Linked DNA regions of Homo sapiens: all the other regions are reported to be linked to region 3. The links are microRNA targets in miRTarBase. Many come from high-throughput screens and were not tested one by one. Region 3 holds a microRNA gene; each other region holds the end of a gene's coding sequence.

What was found. Region 3 holds the annotated microRNA hsa-miR-6818-5p (UUGUGUGAGUACAGAGAGCAUC, at 2,040-2,061, shown strand). A microRNA usually pairs through its seed, bases 2 to 8, with sites in the 3' UTR of a target mRNA and lowers its output. Matches are read on the target gene's strand: a 7mer-m8 pairs with bases 2 to 8, a 7mer-A1 pairs with bases 2 to 7 and ends in A, and an 8mer does both.
Region 1: the mRNA of TSC22D2 is a reported target of hsa-miR-6818-5p. The part of its 3' UTR that is shown has no 7-base or 8-base seed match.
Region 2: miRTarBase lists ERVMER34-1 as a target of hsa-miR-6818-5p. The part of its 3' UTR that is shown has no 7-base or 8-base seed match.

Annotation. Positions count from the first base shown.
Region 1 is chr3:150,457,515-150,464,715 of GRCh38, reverse strand. TSC22D2 (TSC22 domain family member 2) reads right to left here. Exons shown (of 3, transcript NM_001303264.2): 3 at 1-6,340. The coding sequence ends at 6,080. Among named protein-coding and RNA genes, the nearest start is that of TSC22D2, 53 kb to the right of the region's middle.
Region 2 is chr4:52,737,784-52,744,984 of GRCh38, forward strand. ERVMER34-1 (endogenous retrovirus group MER34 member 1, envelope) reads right to left here. Exons shown (of 3, transcript NM_001242690.2): 3 at 4,770-7,201. The coding sequence ends at 6,046. Among named protein-coding and RNA genes, the nearest start is that of ERVMER34-1, 10 kb to the right of the region's middle.
Region 3 is chr22:30,005,015-30,012,215 of GRCh38, forward strand. MIR6818 (microRNA 6818) reads left to right here and starts at 2,035; the gene lies at 2,035-2,099. MTMR3 (myotubularin related protein 3) reads left to right here. Exons shown (of 20, transcript NM_021090.4): 10 at 2,100-2,305; 11 at 2,887-3,018; 12 at 4,004-4,115. It overlaps HORMAD2-AS1 (HORMAD2 and MTMR3 antisense RNA 1), which reads right to left. Exons shown (of 5, transcript NR_110541.2): 5 at 3,732-4,182.

The DNA of each region.
Region 1 (7,201 bases), not on the chromosome of region 3:
TCTGGTGATTTAAAGTTGTTTCCTGGCAATATCAAAGGATTTTTACATGGGATGGCAATATTACTGTTGATTTATAAAAACCTTTCATTTAACAAATGATATAAGGTTCACAAACTATAACATATACTCTGAATAAACAATATGGCACTTTAACTTTTACACTTACACTGGACTGAGCTCATTGGAGCACACAAATCATGTCCCATTCATCTTTCTATCCCCAAACATCCAGTACAGGTTGCAGCACCTAAATTGAAATAGAATTAAATTGCATGTCAACATTTTTTTTATAAAATAAAAAAAAGAAACCTAAATTTCTTGAAAACATCACTTTTAGGGTTTTACAAAGTCATACATGTTTCTTTTTATTAGCCACTGACCTGTTATTATTTCCATCTCAAGTGTGGGGAAAATGTTCCCTTGCTGTCTCTGATCTTCCTCAGGTATGATATGACCTATCTATAGATACATTGCATGCCTGTGAAATGACAGCAAGAACTGTGATCCGGATAACATTTGGATTGCAGCAGGCAAGAGTATTTTACAGTTGTTATATGGAAATATTGTAGGCATGCAAAAGAATGGAGAGATGAACTTAACTTTTTTATGGAGAAGTTGAACTGTGGCATTTGCCTTGTTTTAAAATTCAGTTGTTTTTATGATCTAAGTTAGCACACCTTTCCCTTCCCTCCAAGGGGATAAATATGGCTTCTGTGGACAATGTTGTAGTCTGTAAACTTAAATACTATGGACCCATGACAGTAGACAATGGGAAAATTCCCCAAACTGCCTAGTCTATCAGTTTCCCTGCTGAGAATGAAAAATAAAGCTAACTCACTCACCATCCAGGTATGCTGAACAAATTCAACAACTAAATGGACTGCGCCAGTGCAAAATACCAGCGTCTTACTTTGCCATCACCAATCTGAAAATCTGTCTTATTTTTCTTATTTGATGATTCCATGGCGGGGTTCGGGGGGGTGGTGGGCAAGCAAGAATGTCTGTGAACTTTAACTTGCTTCAGAGTGCCTCACTTAGCATTTTCATCTATGAACACAGCATGTCATACCAATTGTACTCCACAAAAGATATAGTTACAGTAGCACTTGTATAAAGTAATCCTTGCAACCTATGAAGGAAAGCCATACATTTAAAGGGATCTTGCTGTAGAAATTCTGTGAACTGGTACAGAAATACAGGACAAAGATGTATCCTGAAATATTGAAAAGGAGTAAATGGGGTGCAAGTATACATCACTAAATAATAAACTATTACTATTGCTAGAAAATAGAAATATGGATTATTAAGAGGCTTGAAGCAGAAGGAGGTGGGAGAAAAGGTCTGGTTTTGGATAGGCAGGAGACTTAGAAAAAAGAAGCCTGCAGGACTGACCTATGTCAAAGAATAAAAGGCTAAAGCCTAGCAAAACCTATTCTGCCTTGGGCTGTCAGTACCTACAGTGGGGGCCAGAACCTGTATTATCCTTTCCAGGGAGCAAGGAATAGATTTTAGGGAAAGGCTTTGGAATCAACATCCTAATCCTAGTCACCATAAAAGGATTCCATTTAGTTTACCTTTAGGGTAGAATTGAGAGACAGGCATAGTGACAGCAAAGGTTCCATTCCCCAACCCTTTTGTTAAATTCTTGAAATCCCTTTAAGGAAACAAAGACTTTCATTTCACAGATTTATAACTGTTGGAAGGAAAAGACCGAGTCAAACTTTCAAGTATGAGTTGGGACTCTTTAATCTTTTTTTGGAGGGACAAGAAAATAGGCAGCTGGGTGCGGTGGCTCACGCCTGTAATCCCAACACTTTGGGAGGCCCAGGCGGGCGGGGGAGATGACTTGAGGTCAGGAGTTCAAGACCAACCTGGCCAACATGGTGAAACCCTGTCTCTACTAAAAATACAAAAATTAGCCTGGCATGGTGGCACACGCCTGTAATCCCAGCTACTCAGGAGGCTGAGGCAGGAGAATCGCTTGAACCTGGGAGGCGGAGGTTGCAGTGAGCCGAGATCTTGCCACTGCACTCCAGCCTGAGCACAGCAAGACTCTGTCTCAAAAAAAAAAAAAAAGAAAAAAGAAAAAAAGAAAATAGGCACCTGATACCTGACACTGGGAATGGGATGTTCATTGTGGAGAGGAAAATGGTACAGAAAGACCCAAGACAAACTTCCTTCATGACCTTCACAAAATTGCCTATGTAATTTTGCCCTTTCATTTATTTTCCGGATTGTCATCCCTCCTAAATTATTTCTCAGCTTCCAGTTTCAGCTACTCTAACCTACCTCCCATCTGCCACTGGAATTGTGCACATCCAGCATAATTTGAGCATAGTATCCCATTGCTTAAAACCATTCAATAAATCATTCTTGCTTTCTGAATAGATGCCAAAATACTAGGTCAGTGGGGAAGTCACTGCCTGCCTGTCTCCAATGCAATTCTGTGGCTGCCCTAGGAGCCTTGTTTATACTTTTAAGCCATTGAGTTCTCTTTTCTTGTGCTTGGAACACCCTTCCCTCTGGCTCTTATGACCTTCAAGACTCAGGTGTCATGTTTTTGAGGAAACCTACCCTGACAAAACCATCCCTGACTGTACATAGTAACAAGTATTCCTCACTGCATTATCAGTTGGCTTATTATGTCCTCAAATTGTCAATTTTGAGGGCTGGGTTTTGTCCTTTTCATAGGATTATTAAAGAAATGTCACAAAGTGCTTGCCACTGAGCCATAAAGCTTCTTTTAAAAATGTGACTTCAAATCTTAAAAATTGTTTCCAGACAATTAGCTATTTCTGGTTCTGCAAAGATAAATTTTCAAGAACAGAGATATTCTGGTTCTATTAAGACTTTTTTTTTTTTTAAAAAAAGGTCCATGAATTACTGGAGTTTGCAACTTGGAGAAATATAATCATTCACCTGTGAAAATTCTTGTGAATAATGGCAGCTGTGATCCCCAGTCACTGGAGGCTTGATTATAAAACGTTATCTCAATACTTCTAATTAGCATAGGATATTATAAATAGAATTGGAAAAATTCAGCTATTTTGGACAATCAGGAGTTAAGGAAACTGTTTATTTAATGCCTCCTAACCCCTACTATTTGTTTTTGGTGTGGCAAGCTGTGAGATCACATCGGAACAAACTAAATTTTATTTGGGGAAAGTTAGGTTTGAATTGTAGACAATTACCGTATCAGAAAAATTTCTACTTATGATTTACCGGCTAAATTAAAACAGAAAAGCTTATGTGGGACCTTGCTCTATGGGCATTACACTGACAGAATTAGATAGATGGCATTCCTGTAAGACTGTGCCTCCAAATTGGGATCTCAATCAGTTAATATTTACAACTATTTGGAGCAGGAGACTAAATCTCCAAAGCTGAATTGGAAGTTACTTAAGATCCTAAACAATCAGCTGGGGGAAGGGTTGACAGTAGGGATAGTTTGGATTTTGAGGGGAGGGGATGATGGGAAAGCAGAGGGCAGACACCACAATAATTCTGCATTTTTGAACAATGGACCATGAGTTGAGTATCTTCTCCTGTCGTTACACTGGAAAGCTTATTATTTAAGGCTCTAGATACATACTGCCAAATTACTTTCTAAAAGTACACAGGAAAGCCTGTCTTTCTTTCTATGTTAAGTCCTGCTACTTAGGACACTTATTACAATTCGCCAAAAACATTAATTTGCATTTCTTAGGTTACTAGAGGTTGAACCTTTAGAAACTGCCATTTATCTCTTCTGTGAACTACCCATATTTTCTCTCCTTTTCTACTGTTTTTCTTAATATAAAAGTAGTAATAACTGCTGTTACCATTTTAAACCTTATTATTCATTTCCTTGGAGACTATTACTTTGTTTATGAAGTGTTTTTCCAGCCCCAGAATCAAAATGGAATCTATTTTCACAAAAATCCCATTTCTAAGACTAGTTTTTCTCCACCTGTATTAAATATCACATGTCACAGTTAGCACTGGAGGGGCACAGCCAGCAAACCTTTTCGGTTAACAGTCCAACAGTGAAGTTTCACATTCCATTAAGTATCTCACCTGTAGCAGCTCTACTTGGAATCTTACTACACATCCTTAGGGTTGCTTACTCAAGCCTATGTACTTAGTTCCTTGATTTATAATGTTATTCATTAACATTTTGTTCAATGTCTTGCAGCACAACTAGAATAGAAAATATTTGGCAATCTCATGTACATCCCAATTTTATGCCTTGTTTGTTTGTGGCTAATCTGATTAAATTTTTACTTCAAATAAGTCTTTTAACACGGAGAACTAACTACTGGTTCTCATTAACTCTGATTAGCTAGCTGGCTACAGATGCAGTGCATGTTAATTTCTACAGGCACCTTTCTGAATTCAAGTAAAAGTTTTGGTAGACAAGGATTTCCTACTTAAGTATCACTAACATAATATGAATATTGAGTACAAATATTGCTCACTATTTTTGCATTCTTTAAATTGTTTTACTTTGAAAATTTAAGAACTATCAGTAAGTCATTATTAACAGGTCTTTAAGGAGTATTTTGAACTGTGAAAATACAAATCTAGTCAAATTTTGAACACATATAGAGCCAAATATTTCAACAAAACTGCAGTTTAATTTCAGAAAATGTTAAAATATATATTTATACATCAATTTCTGACATACACTTAATGTGTTAGTATACACAAAATGATGCTTTCTTTTGAAACTGTATTTATGAAATGTACATTTTAATTTAAATACTCAGTATACACTGCACTTAATCTGCATGTTGCATTTATTAAATACATTAAAATCTGCAATGTAACAAAACGTTTTCTGCATACGAAATTCAAAACACCATTTTAAATGAACAAAAGATGGCTCACTTTTTTTTTTTTTTTTTTTTACAACTAGTGTATTGTACACTAGCTCAGCTCCACCAAACTACCTGTTCGTTCTCTTTTATTTGACATTGTTCACAGACTAGTACATATTACAATAAGAGTGCTGGATAAAAACATGAGGTACGAAAGTGGTTCAAAGATTATAGGTCATGCAGATCATGCTAGACAGTAAAGAAAATTGTGACTGAGAAAACACTAAATAAAAATACATAAAGAATGTGCATTATAAAAAAAAAAAAAGACAAAAAAAAAAAAACAACAAAAAAAAACCAAACTCCATTACACAGCTTTGCTTCTTTGGTTACAAAGTAGGTTGAACAATTTCACAGCTTTTTATTCCCACCCGAAAAAAAAGTCATACGAAATGTTGAAAAGCAGAGGAATCGTGGCAATTTCTCTTAGAAAGTAGAAACAAATGAACAAAGTTTTCTTCATCAAAATAGCCCAATTATTTATCATATCACAATAACTGGTGACTACCTGTACAGTTGCACTATGTTCTTCATACTTACACTATACAAAATTTACATTCAAGCTGGGTCTTTACTACTGAAAATAAATACCATAAGTAAATTGCCATTAGTGTTAGAAATATGCCAGGATTCTTTTGTTCAATTATTGCCTAAACGTTTTATCTATTAAATGCAATCCTGTCTTTCACTTCCTTTACTGATACTTATAATTATTCAAAAAAATTAAAAAAGTTCTGTGACATTGTTCATGTACATTATGAAAATAGCAGCCCTGTAATAAATAAAACACAAATAAATGAAAACTTATGTAGGCAAATGTTACTGAATCAGAAAGAAAAGTGGCTCTTTAGATGAACTGTTATTTATAATGTGATAGGAAGGCTCAGGGTAAATCCATGGGTAATAGGAAACATGGGAGAGCCACCAAAACTCTTAAAGACCCCACTCATGCGCACCAGGTAAAATGCAGACTTTGCTCGCTTTAATAAACCCCATCTATTATTCTCCTTGTGTACTGATGACATAGAACTGGACATCAACAGCGCTGCATGACATCTCAGAGAGAGGAAAAGCTCTTGTAGAATGATTGTCTAATACTGAAAAGGCCAAACACACAACCAAAGCATGGCTACTTGCTTTCGTATAAAGTGGAAAGAACACCAGTGGCACACAAGGATAGATTGCTTTCAGTTTTTTTCTTAATGAGGCTTAAGAAAGCTTTATGCTGAGGAGACATTCGGCTGCTGTGGAGGTTGCGTTGGCTGCGGAGGCTGTGCTATCACTGCTTGCTGTTGAGAAGTGCTACCAGGATTGGCCTGTTGGGTTGGGAGTTGGGATAATTGATCATTGCTTGAAAGAGATTTTAACAGTGCATTTTCTCGTTCAAGTAAAGAGTTTCTTTCAACTAATTCTTTTATTTGTTCCTTTAAAACTTCCACTTCTTCTCTTACTGCATACATCAAATGGCTTTTCACCAGATCCTGTGAAAAACAAAATTAGGAATGTCAAAAGAGTGAAAAGATAAAGGTGGTGCTATCTGGTTCTGGCCTACTTGGTGCTAAGTTTTTATACTAGTTTTCCTGCTCTTGCTTTTAATGTTTCTGCTTTATCTTGACCGAGCCTATGGAAGATGGGTTGGAAAAAATCCAGTTCCCAACCAGAGCAGTAAGCCCAGAATTTTCTTTTCAAAGTTTGGGACGATTTCCAAAAAATACTAGCTTCTTAAATTGTCAACTAAGCTTAGAATTAAAAAAAAAAAAAGTTTAAAATCACATGCTTAAAATGGTAGATAAAGAGAACAAAGGAACAATATTCCAACGGAAAGCTGTTTGATGTTAAACTAGTCATAGTACTGCTTTAAAGTGATCTGTAATTTTGGACTTTAAAATTTTGGTATTTTTAAAAAAATAGTTTGAGACTAACAGTCCTGTAAGGTCTCACACCGGTAATCCCAGCACTTTGGGAGGCTGAGGCGTGTAGATCACCTGAGGTCAGGAGTTTGAGACCACCTTGGCCAACATGGTGAAACCCCGTCTCTACTAAGAATACAAAAATTAGCCAGATGTGGTGGTGTGTGCCTGTGCTCCCAACTACTCAGGAGACTGAGGCAGGAGAATCACTTGAACCTGGGAGGTGGAGGTTGCAGTGACCCAAAATCATGCCACTGTACTTCAGCCTGGGTGACAGAGCGAGACTATCTCAAAACAAACAAAAATACCAACTTTTTTTGTAGAGACGGGGTCTTGCTATGTTGCCCAAGTTGGTCTCAAACTCCTGGCCTCAAGTGATCCTCCCACCTCAGCTCAGGTGCTGGGATTACAGACACAATCCACTGTGCCTGG
Region 2 (7,201 bases), not on the chromosome of region 3:
GGAATAGTGAAAGACCACCTGAGTTTTGGCATGAGCAACTGGGTGGAATAGTGTCATTATTCATTGAGATAAGGAAAACTGAAGAATAAGTCTGGGGGAGGGAGCTGAAAGTGAAGTTTGTTCATGCTAAGGTTGAGATGCCTCTTCAGCATCCAAGGGGAGATGACAGATAAGTACAAAGAGACATGAGTTTGGAGTTGAGTAGTGAAATCCAGGTTTGAGATACAGATTTGGGAATCATTGCTGGAGACTCAAGAGAGCCAATTGTGTAGTTCCTGTTTAAGGGCTGGTAGGCTTGAGACCCAGAAAGAGCTGAAGGCAAGGGGGAAAGGTCAAATTCACAGGCAGTCAAGCAGGAAGAATTCTCTTCCTCAGGGGAGGGTCAGCCCTCTTATTCTCTTTAGGCCTTCAGCTGATTGGATAAGGCCCACTCACATTAGGCAGATAAATCTGCTTTACTCGGTATTCCCATTTAAGTGTTAATTTCGTCCCAAAACACTTCTACAGAAACACTCAGAATACTGTTTAATCAAATATCTAGGTGCTCTGTAGCCCAGTAAAGTTGACACAAAAATTAAGCATCACACTGTGATTCAGGGAAGGTGTTTGGAAAGAGGGAGTGGCCAACCATTAAGACTGGCACTGCACGATGTGTTAAGAAGTTTATAGACCATTTATTTGGCAAAAGGGTTTTTTGAATATCTTTGTAGAAATTATTAGGAAGACAGAAGGTATGAAAGGGCAGAGTATTTCCTTAAGATACATTTCCTGTGAAATTACTCTGCCAATGAAAATGAAATTTTAAATATCCTATTATACATGGTACATTTGCTTCAACCTTTCTGAAGGATAGTTTAATACAGAAAAAAAACTCATTAAAAAAGGCAACTAGGTTTAACATACATAAACTATATATGTATATATTTACACATCTGTTTAATTTGAGGATGTAAAATACTATTACTTTTTAAAGCTTTTTACTCTGAATTATATATTTAAAAAAAAACAGTGCAGAGAGATTCCACGTAGCCTTCACCCAAATTCTCCCAAGTGGAAGTCACTATAGCACAAAAACAAAACTAGAAAATTGACATTGAGCTGTGTGTGCCAATATTACATCATTCTGTGTCATTTTGTCATGTGTAAATTCATGGAACCATCACAACTCAGATATAGAATTATTATGTCACCACAAAGATCTCACTCAAAAAGTGTTATGTCCTAAGGCTTTCGTTTGGAAAACAGAAAAAAAAATCATCCACATTTCCTCCCAAACAATTATTTTTATTGCATATATTCCCTCACAGTTGTAATTACTGTATATCATAATATTTTCTTAACAGCAAATGCACATTTTCTTCACCTTTGACTTTGTACACCTCTAGGTTTTGAAAGCAAATCGACCCATGCTGCAGGATTATCACAGGGTTGTTGCCACCCCTGAAATATTCCTTGTGGTAGTACTGATTGCTGGTTAAGATGGCTACATTTAAATACTCATCTTCTGAAGCTTTCTGTGGAGAAATTAAAAAACATATATCTTGTATAAAGTCATAGATAACAATCAAAAGAATAAAAAGTATTTGTTCTTCAGTAGTCCATCTGTGTAACTATCATTAGAATTGTATGAGGAGCCTAGCCCAATTACTTTTCATGATTTAAGTGAATTTAGCATTTTCTTGTTGCTTGTACTTTGTATGTAGATTCTCTAGATGCCAATAATGATGGGTTAACTTTTAAAGAAGTGAATATATATACACATATGTGTATATACCTATATATAAATTGAGGAGACGATTTAACTTTTGAAAACGATGTCTTGACTGAATACTGCAAAGCCAAAGACAAAAAAGCAAACGCTGTATTCTAATTGGTTACTTTGTTTCTCATAAAGGGACAGGTTAGCAATTATGTAACTATGTTATGTAACTAGTTTACACATATAGTAGAGTTTAACAAATAAGCAAATAAATCTTAGCTAATAGGAGACAGGTTTCTCAGCAACAGAAAAGTTACAAATAAGCAAGGGGTAAGGTGAGGCTAGAATGAATCCTGTGGTGCTGAGAGTTGGAGATATCAGTATAAACTCGTTTATTTCAATAAACTGTAGGTATATATGTATAGGTATCTGTGTATACATACAAACATTTCCTAGCTGTGTCCACTGAGGGGGCCTACACAGTGATAACCTAGTAGCAGTAGCAATGAGCACATCTTGTGCCCAGATCTTGGTTTCTAAAACCATTTTTCAGTACAGGGAACAATGGTTTCTTGGGAAAAAAAAATCACTGATTCTAGGGCTGGGCAGGAAAAATAAAAGATGAGCTTGCAGCATATTGGAGCGCTGGAGAGTAAGGAAGTGCTGAAAAAAAAAAAATAAGGCCAAACAAACAAAAAACACATAGGGAGAGGCATGTCAAAAGGAAACAGGAACAAATTTTCCAAGAGCTCTCAAAGGCCAAAGCTGCAACACTTTGAGCAACAGTATGATAGTACTGGATTACAACCCAAAGAACAATGTATATATCCATGAGTCCACACTGATAAAAAATATTGGATAACAATTTTCCTTAAGTAAGCTTCTAATTAATAAATGTATCAGGAAATAGGAAGGTGAAACATCTGGTGAACCTTTGAGCTGGCTAATAAATGTTTTTGCCAACCAACCTATTTTGTGTTCCTTCTGATGCATAACAATGGAAAGAGGATTTTTTTCCCCTATGAGTTTTGAAAATCAGAAATACCTTTGTGTCCATCACCAGTAATGTTGAAACTATTTTCTATAACTTGTCATGCCCTACAAACCTTACTTTAATCAAATATTGTGCAGCTTAACACACCTCATAATCAGTCATGCTATTTGATGAAACTTTATCCTTTTAATAAGACATTTTCTAACATTCCAATGACTGCCCCTTTATTTCATATTTCCTCTTCACTTTGTATTCGTACTTGACATTGTGAAATGAGGACCAGGCCAGGTGCGGTGGCTCACACCTGTAATCCCAGCACTTTGGGAGGCCAAGGCGGGCGGATCACCTGAGGTTGGGAGTTCGAGACCAGCCTGACCAGCATGGAGAAACCCTGTCTGTACTAAAAATACAAAAAATTAGGTGGGCATGGTGGTGCGTGCCTGTAATCCCTGCTACTCAGGAGGCTGAGGCAGGAGGATCACTTGAACCCAGCAGGCAGAGGTTGCGATGAGCTGAGATTGTGCCACTGCACTCCAGCCTGGGCAACATGAGTGAAACTCCGTCAAAAAAAAAGGAAAGAAAGAAAGAAGGAATGAGAGAAAGAGAGAAAGAGAGAGAGAAAGAAAGAAAGTAAGGAAAGAAAGAAAGAGAGAGAGAGAGAAAGAAAGGAAAGGAAAGGAAAGAAAGAAAGAAAGAAAGAAAGAAAGAAAGAAAGAAAGAAAGAAAGAAAGAAAGAAAGAAAACCAAGTACCACAAATACCCAATACTGAAAGTTGCATTTCTTTTAATGGCTTCTCTAGTTTCAATGCATATTGCATAACAAACACAGGAAGTCCTATATCTTTCAGCTCAAGGAGGCTTTCTCTTGTGTCCTATATTGCTGAAAGTTTTTATTACCTTCTTTTGTGTGTGTGTGTGTGTGTGTTTTGTGCTTTTTGGGGTTTTTTTTTGAAACAGAGTTTCGCTCTTGTTGCCTAGGCTGGAGTGCAATGGCATGATCTTGGCTCACCACAATCTCCGCCTAGTGGGTTCAAGTGATTCTCTTGCCTCAGCCTCCCGAGTAGCTGGGATTACAGACATGCACCACCAGGCCTGGCTAATTTTGTATTTTTTTTTTTTTTTTTTTTTTAGTAGAGATGGGGTTTCTCCTCGTTGGTCAGGCTGGTCTCCAACTCCTGACCTCAGGTCATCTGCCTGCCTTGGCTTCCCATAGTGCTGGGATTACAGGCATAAGCCACTGCACCCAGCCTACCTTCTTTTGATATCAACATTACTATGAACAACAAACCCATCTATAAGGGTTCTATTGTTCCAGAGTATGAGTTTTCTTTTCTTTATCTTTTTGAGACAGAAGCTCACCCCATCACCCAGGCTGGAGTGCAGTGGCACAATCTTGGCTCACAGCAGCCTCGACCTCCCAGCCTCAAGTGATGCTCCCACCTCAGCCTCCTGGGTAGCTCGGACTATAGGCACATGCCACCACACCTGGCTAATTTTTTGTAGAGACAGGGTTTCACCAGGTTGCCCAGGCTGATTTCCAACTTCTGGGCTCAAGCGATCCACCTGCCTCAGCCTCGCAAAGTGCTGGAATTACAGGCATGAGCCACCACACCCAGTCTGTGCTTTTTTTTTTTTTTTTTTTTTTTTTTGCCACAGAATCTCACTCTGTTGCCAGGCTGGAATACAGTGGTGCGATCTCAGCTCACCGCAACCTCCGCTTCCTGGGTTCAAGCGATCCTCCTGCCTCAGCCTCCTGAGTGGCTGGGACTACAGGTGCCTGCCACCATGCCCAGCTAATTTTTGTACTTTTGGTAGAGATGGGGTTTCACCATGTTGGCCAGGATGGTCTTGATCTCTTGACCTCGTGATCTGCCCACCTTGGCCTCCCAAAGTGCTGGGATTACAGGCGTGAGCCACCGTGCCCAGCCATCCATGTTTTCTTAATGTAACTTGAAATGATTATTCTGTTAATAAATTATCAATCTGCTATGTTCATAAATTTGTTTATGTGCAACCTTAAAAAGGAGGTGAGAATCTCACAGTCCATTCCTCTTACATGTGAATCACTTTCAATTGTGAATGGCTTTTCCTGTTTTATTTGCAAATACATACACATATACATATCATTTCCCCTTTTTTAAAATAAAAAGTAACATACGAGGCTGGGTGCAGTGGCTCACACCTATAATCCTAGGACTTTGGGAGGTTGAGGTGGGCGGGTCATGAGGTCAGGAGACTGAGACCATCCTGGCTAACACGGTGAAACCCCGTCTCTACTAAAAACACAAAAAATTAGTCAGGCGTGGTGGCAGGCGCCTGTAGTCCCAGCTACTCAGGAGGGAGGCAGGAGAATGGCATGAACCCAAGGGGGCAGAGGTTGCAGTGAGCCGAGATTGAGCCACTGCACTCCAGCCTGGGTGAAAGGGCCAGACTCTGCCTCAAAAAAAAAAAAAAAAGAGTAACATACTAGGTATGCTGTTCTGCATCTTGCTATTTTTCAGTAATAGTATAATCTTTAGCAAGCTATCTACCCTTTGAGTTGATTAATCTGTAAAATATGAACACCGAGAGGATTAACTAGAAAGATGCATGTAAGGAACTCACCAGAGGACTGGGCAGAGTGAAGCATTTGATATAATAGATGCCACCTCAACACTCCCTGCATCCTACTTCCACCTGCGGCCCATTTCATAAGATGGCTAAAATGCATATCAGACTAATATTCCATTAGACCACTAAAATGCCCATGGGAAATCAGGAAAGCTCAGATCATACCAGCCTAAATTATTTGTGGCTTTCTCCCTAAAGTAAGTTTTCAGTCAATTCTGATGACTACCCAATATTTATTCTTTGAGACAAATTTAAGGACATAGTTTTGTGTATGTGTACATTGGATTCTTCTACCTTCAACCAAAATCAAGGGAACAAAATTCCCTTATCTATTCAAACACACTCTTTGGTCTATCCAGAAGCCTACAAAGTGCTGTTGGGAGAAACTATCCTGCCCCCAACTTAGTTCCAGTGTTTGGGGGCTTGCAAATTAACAGATCAATAGAAAAAACATTTATTATATATGCATGCAAGAACACTACAAAGAGTAGCTCTCTGAACAGCAAGGGGTAAGGGTTTACAGATCAGCTTTATGGTGTGTGTCTTAAGGCTTCAGAATGAAACTACAAAAAGTTCTGATAAGGCTTATTTACAATACCTTGGGAGGTCCTAGTGCTAAGTGCCCTTATAAGAGGAACACTCAGAGGAGGGTTTTGGCAGCTGAATTCTCGGTAAGACCTGCTTTACTCATCAAAGTTTAGCTAAGGCTTTTTGTCTGCAGCTGCTGTTTGTTCAGATATTCTCAAAGTAGACTTGTGTCATATTGATGGGTTGTTAGTCCCTTCATTGCCCTATTTGAAACTTGACATGAAGTTTCACTGACAAGGAGCTGTGCTGATTGCTGTGGAGATAAGGCTAGGTTCAGAGGTTGGGAGTTAAGGGATCTGCGAGATTTGCGAAAGACACGAACATAGATTAAAACAAAGATGAATAAGCAGAAAAGAACAATTAAAAGCACATAGCCCCATGATCTGAACCAGTCTCCCACTTTTGCAAATATGCCTTGCCAATCAAGTAACGGTACATTCTTCAGGTTCTCGGATGCTTCGTGGAGACGCTGTATATTAGACTTTATTTCTTCCGAATAATTTATATAGAGGCAACACTGTTTGCCAACAGTTCCACAAGCCGTTTGTCGTTGGGTGGTCGGTATATCCAAGACATGATCCTTTCGGGATGCAGAGGCTAAACTGCTAACTTTTGATTGGTGTGCTTCCAAGGTCTGCTTAGTGGCACTGAATTCCTGTTCCATTGCTTTGGAAATGTTTAGAATTGCCTTTTCTAAATCATAAGTTCCCAAACTTGGAAAAAGGGCCCTTATTGTTGAATTGTCCTTGGGGTTGCAATACAGAGGTGGATTGTCTGTGTCTCCTTGGGTGCATCTATGCGGTGTTACTTTATGAATGAAGGATCTCAGGTTTGTAATTTGGCTAGCATTTAAGGTGAGGTATCTGGTGAGGGAAGGTACAAGATACCCAAGTCCACATCGCCCAGACCATTTAGGTGGAAACCCTTTGTACACCCCATTGCCGCACAAAAAAAAGAGGCCAGAGTTGTTCACAGACAAGGTCAGATTGGAACCTGTGAGCCACCAGGTGGGGGTCCGGTGTCCATCATGACCTTTGTCATTAGTTATGCTGGCATCTGCACATCTCCATTTCCCATGTGCCTCTGTCAGGCCATAAGAGCAAAATAGGTTGCGAAATAGCTGGTACAGAAGGCCTTTGGTTTGGTTTTGGCAGCTATAGAGACAGGTGTCATTACCTGACCAGGTCAATCCAGAATTTCGATCTACCCATTTGTAGTCTTGGGTATTGGGCAGACCAATCAAGGGAACAGCTGAGCTGTTCCAGGTCCGGTTTGTGCAACCTGCAAACCAGGAACATTGTCTAGTGCCT
Region 3 (7,201 bases):
ATGTAAAGGGCACCCATCTGTAGTGCAGTTCACAGCTTTTTCCTTTGTGCATGTGGTGATTATTCTAAACTCCTAGTTACTTAAGGGAGCTTGCCTAAATCTAAGTTGAGGTTACTTAAGACAATTCTGTTCCTATATAAAATTGAAGCATTCTGTGTTTTAGTAGGGAGGGCTTTATCTGTTGGACATCATAATTTTTATACTTTGCCTGGTTCTGTTAGTGATAGAAATGCATTCCTTTAGTGATTTTTAACTGTAGTGTTTGAATTATCTTTCATGTAGTCTGAAGCATTTTAGAAGACTGCAGAAAACATAATTGTTTATTGCAATAGTCCAGTTGAAATCTAATAGCTACTATAATGCAGTGTCCCCTAAAACCCAAGATCCAGGCTGAAGAGCGCCATCTACTGCTCCTCTTGGGCACTGCTGGGAAGCATTGAAGAAGAGGAGGATGTTCAGGAAAGGCCCAACCAGCCTCTTGTGCAGGGTTTGGAGTCATTCAGCTCAGTGGTTGCCTGTTATTTGCTAGGAGACATTTTATAAAGAATCATTGAGGTTTTATTTCTATTTTGGCCCCATTCAGCACGTGAGCCAGTTGAGCATGTTGGCAATACACAAGTACTTACAGCTACTTGTCTCCCAGGGAGGGAGGCTTTAAAAACTACAAGCAAACTGGTGATTTCAGTGGAATTTGATTAGTGCCAAATTTAACTTATTTGTGAGTTTTAGGAGTAAAAACAAATTACAGTACATTTTCATCGTCCCAAAAAACCCATTCACAGGGCACCCAGCCACCCTAGCCCTGAATAATTAAGATGTCCAATGGATGAAGCCCCTGCTAGTAAAACATAGAGTGCTTCAGTTTTATATAGAAACATACTCGTTTTAAGTAACCCCAACTTAGAATTAGGCAAGCTCCCTTAAGTAACTACGAGTTTATAATAGTCACTACATGCAGAAATCTACTTCCATCTTTATAGATTCGCCTATTCTGGATACTTCATGTTAATTGTCGTACAATAAGTTGCCTTTTGTGACTGACTTCTTTCACTTGTCATAACATATTTGAGGTTCATCAGTGTCCTAGCCTGTATCAGAACTTTATTCCTCTTTACTGCCAAGTAATAGAATTTTTCTAACTTTTTATCAGTTAAAATTGCCTAACTAGGAAAAGTCTGGGTTTTAATAGCACCTTAAAGTAGACTGTGATTTCTGGTCTGTCTTATTGGAAAAGGATATGTCAGAGTATGGTTTTCTGAGGTTGATGCTCTTCTTCTCTTTCTTAAGAGCCCTAGGAAGGGTAGCTGGCTCATTGAGCTATCTGCCTATTATAAGAGCAGTCTGTGACTCATGAAATCTCAGGAGATTTTGTAAAGCAGTTCACTGTGGGCCAGGTAAATGTTTTATTCCCAGAGGCGGGCTCTTGGTTCAGCATTAAGAAGGTAGCAGATTTCACTATTGGGTAGCAGAATTAGTGTAGTACCTATAGATTTAAGTTACGAATATTGATTTATTTTCACTAAGAGTACACATTAATTCTTTTTTGTTTTTTGGAAATGGGGTCTTGCTCTGTCACCCAAGCTGGAGTGCTGGAGTGCAGTGGCACAATCATAGCTTTCTGCAACTTCAGCCTTCTGGGTTCAAGGGATCCTTCCACCTCAGCCTCCTGAGTAGCTGCGACTACAGGCATGTGCTACCATGCCTGGCTAATTTGTAAAAACTTTTTTGTAAAGATGGGGTCTTGCTATGTTGCTCAGGCTGGTCTTGAACTCCTGGGCTCAAGTGATCCTCCTGCCTCAGCCTCTCAAAGTGCTGGGATTGCAGAGTGAGCCTCCATGCCTGACCCCTGTTAGTCATTTTTTTGGGTAACTTTACAGGGATCTCCGTGATGTTATGGTAATTGAGAAAGACACACAGGTTTTGTTGTTTGTTCTTGTTGGTTGTGTAAGATTTCTACCCTCTTTAATACTGAGAGGACTTGAAGCTGACCCAACACTTACCTAGAATTAGACTGTTCATTAAGGCACTTAAAATCTATTTTGTGTGAGTACAGAGAGCATCTGAATGGGTACAGTTGTTGTCTCTTGTTCCTCACACAGGCACCAGAGCAATGGAGCTGTCATTGCCCGCTGTGGACAGCCAGAGGTTAGCTGGTGGGGCTGGCGAAATGCAGATGATGAGCATCTGGTACAGTCAGTAGCCAAAGCTTGTGCCTCTGACTCCCGATCGAGTGGCAGCAAGCTGTCAACTAGGAACACTTCTCGAGACTTTCCCAATGGGGGAGACCTTTCTGACGTGGAGTTCGGTAAGGTGCTCCCTGGACCCATGGCAATGATTTTTATAGCATCTAAGAACCTTTTCTTGAAATGGCCTCTTCCTTACAAGACATAGATTTACTTTTATAGAAGTGAATGTGCAGAGCTTCACTTGATGGGATTGATTGAGGAGTCATGGGTCTTGGCAGAGAATCAGAAGACCCTTTGTTTCAAACCTGAATCAAGATATTAGTGTGTTTGTTGTCTTTCTTGCCATTGTGACAAAAATGGAGTGTTTATGTAATAGAGGACTTGCAGTATCTGCAGACCATGGCAGGAAATGCCAGGCTTCATGAAAGGACAACAGATACAGAAATGAAGTATAAGAGACTGGGCTGTGTGAACCCCATGTGTACTCTGGGAGTCAGTTTTGGAGAATAAATCCTTCTCATCTTTCATAAGAAGGCCACATAGAAAAAAAGAGAAAAATCCTATGTATCAAGGGTTTTGGTTAGGGGATTTCATTTTATTGAGCCTTTTTTGTGCCATAAGATGTGCTTGTGGGTCTAATTCTGCACAGTTCTGGGAGAGACAGGCTCATTTAGTATGCCCTCTCCCTCTGTGTCCCTAGATTCTTCTCTGTCAAATGCTTCAGGAGCAGAGAGTTTAGCCATCCAACCGCAGAAGCTTTTGATCTTGGATGCACGCTCCTATGCAGCTGCTGTGGCAAACCGAGCCAAAGGAGGAGGCTGCGAATGCCCAGGTGAGGTGTATGGTGCTTTGTTCCCCATACTTTCTCCTTGTGAGTGTAGCCCTTGCCCAACTGAGACTTAGTTCCCAATTTGAAATAAGTGGCAAGCCATATTCCTCATCCATCCTGTCGTGAGAGTGCCAGAGCTTCTCTTTGGATTCTTAACACTGTATGTTCTTTTCTGAGGAGAAATGGAGGAGGAGGTGCAGTGAAGTCACATAATCTTCCTTCCTTGTGCCAACTTGTAGGTGATAAGGAAAGCAGATCTTCCCCATAATAAGACCTGTTCATGTTTGGAAGCTGCTGCTTTAGTGGGCTCAATTTCTCAGCCGTCTAAAAGCTTTTTGTTGCCTTTGACAGAGGGTATGCTCACCACTGGCCTTGTAGCAAACTCCTCAAGGGCCTCTCCTTAGAAAACCTGGGGTGAAAATTGAAGCAGTAAATACAGAACCCTAGTAAGGTATCTCTGTCCTGAGCTGTAACACCATTACTGTTGGAATGCTAGCTTTCCCCAAGGAGGGACCCCCCTCAGTGCCTATGGCACAGGCAGAGGCACCAGGCTCTTTGTTCAGATGTGGTCTAAGCTGGAAATTGAAAGCAGCTGTACCAAGGTGAAATTTGAATGTGTGAACGCATTGTTCTGTGGAGTTCTTTTCAAAGAGATTTCAAAGCCACAAGTTAGATAAGGCCCAAGAAGTAAAGCCAGAGTGAGATCGAAGTAGGCCTTTCTTTTAAAAAATAATAGCTTTTATTTTATGTCAGTATCTTCTTTACAAATCTAACCTTCCCTTTTCACGCTTTTTGAAAAGATAGCTAAAATTCAGTGTGTTCCTCTTATTATAAAGGATTGGGCTAATAGTTAAGCATTTCAAAACATTTCAGTTTCGTTAATCAGAAGCTGCAGTGGGTTTGTTTTATAGCCAGTTTGCTTTTAAATTTGGCCATGTGGGCTTTAAGTTCAACGTATTTGTGTTCTCTTTATTGTTACTCTCTCCAGAGTATTACCCAAACTGTGAAGTTGTGTTTATGGGGATGGCAAACATTCATTCTATTCGGAGGAGTTTTCAGTCTCTGCGGTTGCTGTGCACTCAGATGCCAGATCCGGGAAAGTAAGTCCTTGGCCTTGGCTTTCATTTTGCATTGCTCTTAAATAATAAGTTTGCTTCTTTCCTTGAACTAAGGGGGAAAAAAAGAAAAAAAAATTAATTTGGAGCAGTCTTTCCTTCTGTTTCTTGGTAATCTTCAGTTACCAGACCAGTCTCTGCAAGTATCTCCTTGCTGGGTCTGAAATGTGGCAGCACAGAGGAAGAGTTGGGAGAAAATACAGCCATTTGAAAGGTTTTAAAATCTGCAGCACAGAAGAAATCTCAGCATCAAAACAGAAGCATTACCTTACTGTTTGTCCTGGGACCTTTCCCTTCCACGTCATTTTTAGCCCAAAGAAATTTAATTCTTCAGTTTCTGATGTCCCATAGTGATACATAACCTGTTTTGAACTGGGATGTTTTATCATGAAAAGTCAGAATTTATTCATCATGTTCTAAAGGGTTTAAACTTGCCATTAAGTCAGTTCCTTTTACATCTGCTTTCAATTTCTAAACTGTTCTCATTTACTAAGCATATTATCCTGATTCTTATTGCTTATTAAATATGAATGGCTGGCATTTGCAGTGAGGAAGGTGAACTAATACCCCCTCCAAGGGTACTGATTGAATACAAGATAAATTAGGAAGAATGCTCTGTAAAACAAATATGGACAGATAAGTATTTAAAAATCCTGTTTTACTATTTCAGGAAGCCAGAGATAGGTGCCAGAGAAGACAGAATTTTCTTTTTTCTGGTATTTGTGCTGGAGCCCATAGTTGTTTCTCTGGGTCCTATTCAGTAGATCTGATGATCACATCAAGTTTTACTGCGTTCTTTATTTGATTTATTAAATCAGATGCTGCCTAAACCACTTATATTGACTGCCAGTAGCAAATGATTAAATTCACCGTAGTTGTCATCAGCCAAGAGGATGAAGCAGTGCCTTTGGGGAAAGCCTGACCGGAGAATTGAGCTTGCTGCCTCCTTTGGGGATTAGCCATTTGCATTTGCTACACAGTTCCAGGTCCCAGCTAGCAGCGCTTTCTTCCCTAGGGTGGTATGTAGAAGGAGCCTTACTAAGGACCCAGGAGATCGGCCGCGAACTGTGTAACCTTGGCCAAGGGGTTTAACTACTGTAGATCTCAGTTTTCCTGTCTATAAAATGAAAGACATGTAATCAACACTACATGATCTAATACCCTCCATATATTAAAATTCTTAAAGAGCTATCAGAGTCAAAAAAGATAGAATTAGCCCTCACCTGGTCCACATAAATGTCTTGGGGATTTTATTAAAGGTAATGCTTTTATGTATTTGGCAGCAAATCATAATGCTGCACTGAAGTCTCCCTCATGGGTAAAAAGCAGCTGTAGCAGTGATGGGCAGCTGTAATTAGGCCCCCGGCCTGTGTTTGGGGCTGTGGAGGATAGGGGAATGGTAGGCTTCTAGTGCAGGTTGAGAACAGGACAAGGGAATGGGGAGTCTCTCAGCAGCCCCTCCTTGGCTGGCAGGTTTTGGAGTACAGCTTCATTAGTCACAGACAACACCAACTGGTATTAAATAATAGTTTAGTTAGGTTCAAAAGAACCTCACACCGGTTCTCTTGTTTACCATTTCTTCAGGTGCTAGGAGATAATTTAGTATTTGTTCTCCTAAGCCTTATCTTTTAGTTCCTTTCAAGAATATGTGAGGAATGAAATAAACAATTGATCCATCAGGAAAAAATGTTTCTCAGGTACCTGCTAGGAGATAGAAAGTCTTACGATTGGATTTTTACCCATAACAGACTTACAATTCATTAAACAGTGGGACTCCCTACTGTATGCTAGGCACTGTGCTGGGGGTACAGTTATGACTGAGACATAGTGTTAGCCCTCTGAGGAGTCACAGTCTGGTTGGTAGTCCAAACAAATCCATATACAACCAGTACTTATGCACTGCATTCTGTTGTCTCTTTGCCTGGAAAGACCCCCACCTCCTTAGACTATGCCAAAATTTCATACTTATTCCACAGGGTTTAGTAGGCCTTTACAGCCTTCCCACAGTCCCCTGACAGAAATGTTTATTTCTTCCTCTGACTCAGTGTTTGAAAGACTTGACTTGTGATCTTAACTACAAATCTGATCACATTTGGGAAAAATCAACTCCTTTTTAGGGATTGGGAGGGGTGAGGGAAAGCACAAGAAACAAAATGCAACAGAGTTTAAAAAGCAAGTGTGATTAGCTTGTGATTACTCCCAAGGGGCAGCTACTGCTATCTGATACTCCGAAAGTGAGATGGAGTCTCTCTCTCTCATCCATGCTGGAGTGCGGTGGCCTGATCTCAGCTCACTGCAACCTCCACCTCCCGGGTTCAAGTGATTCTCCTGCCTCAGCCTCCTGAGTAGCTGGGATTACAGGCGTGTGCCACTATGCCCAGCTAATTTTTGAATTTTTAGTAGAGATGGGGTTTCACCATGTTGGCCAGGCTGGTCTGGAACTCCTGACCTCAAGTGATCCACCCACCTCAGCCTCCGAAAGTGCTGGGATTACAGGCATGAGCCACTGCGCCCGGCCTCTAAAAGTCTTTCAAAAAAAGGTTCTTCCTAGATCGCTGCTGAATCCAGTCTGTGTTGAGCCCAGCAATACTGTGTGGCCATTGGTATACTAATTTGTATCAGTATAAATTATCAGATTGGGCTCATCTTGTTTTAGTCAGTAAACATTAAAGAATTAAACAGTGGTAAGTGTTACAGTCTGGGTCATAGGCAGGGTTGTGTGTACCATTCTTGTATATGGCATCCAGCTTATGTCTCATAGATATATTTGTATTCATGAGTTTTTCTTTTCTTTTCTTTTCTTTTTTTTTTGAGAACTTGTTGGGCGTAGTTGCTGATCATTAAATATAAATATCTTCTGTTTTACATCTCAGAAGTGGCTACATTTTTTATTCAGGAGAAGATTCCAGAAAGAGCCACTTTCCTTATACCATGGACTGAAAAATGTCAAATATTTTGCCCGGGGAATCATCCATACAGATTTTGGAACAAAAGGTGTGCTATTAATTGTAGCCCCTATTTCTAAGGCTCTTCTCTATTGTATAGTAGGGCTTGGGCCTCATCCTGAGACA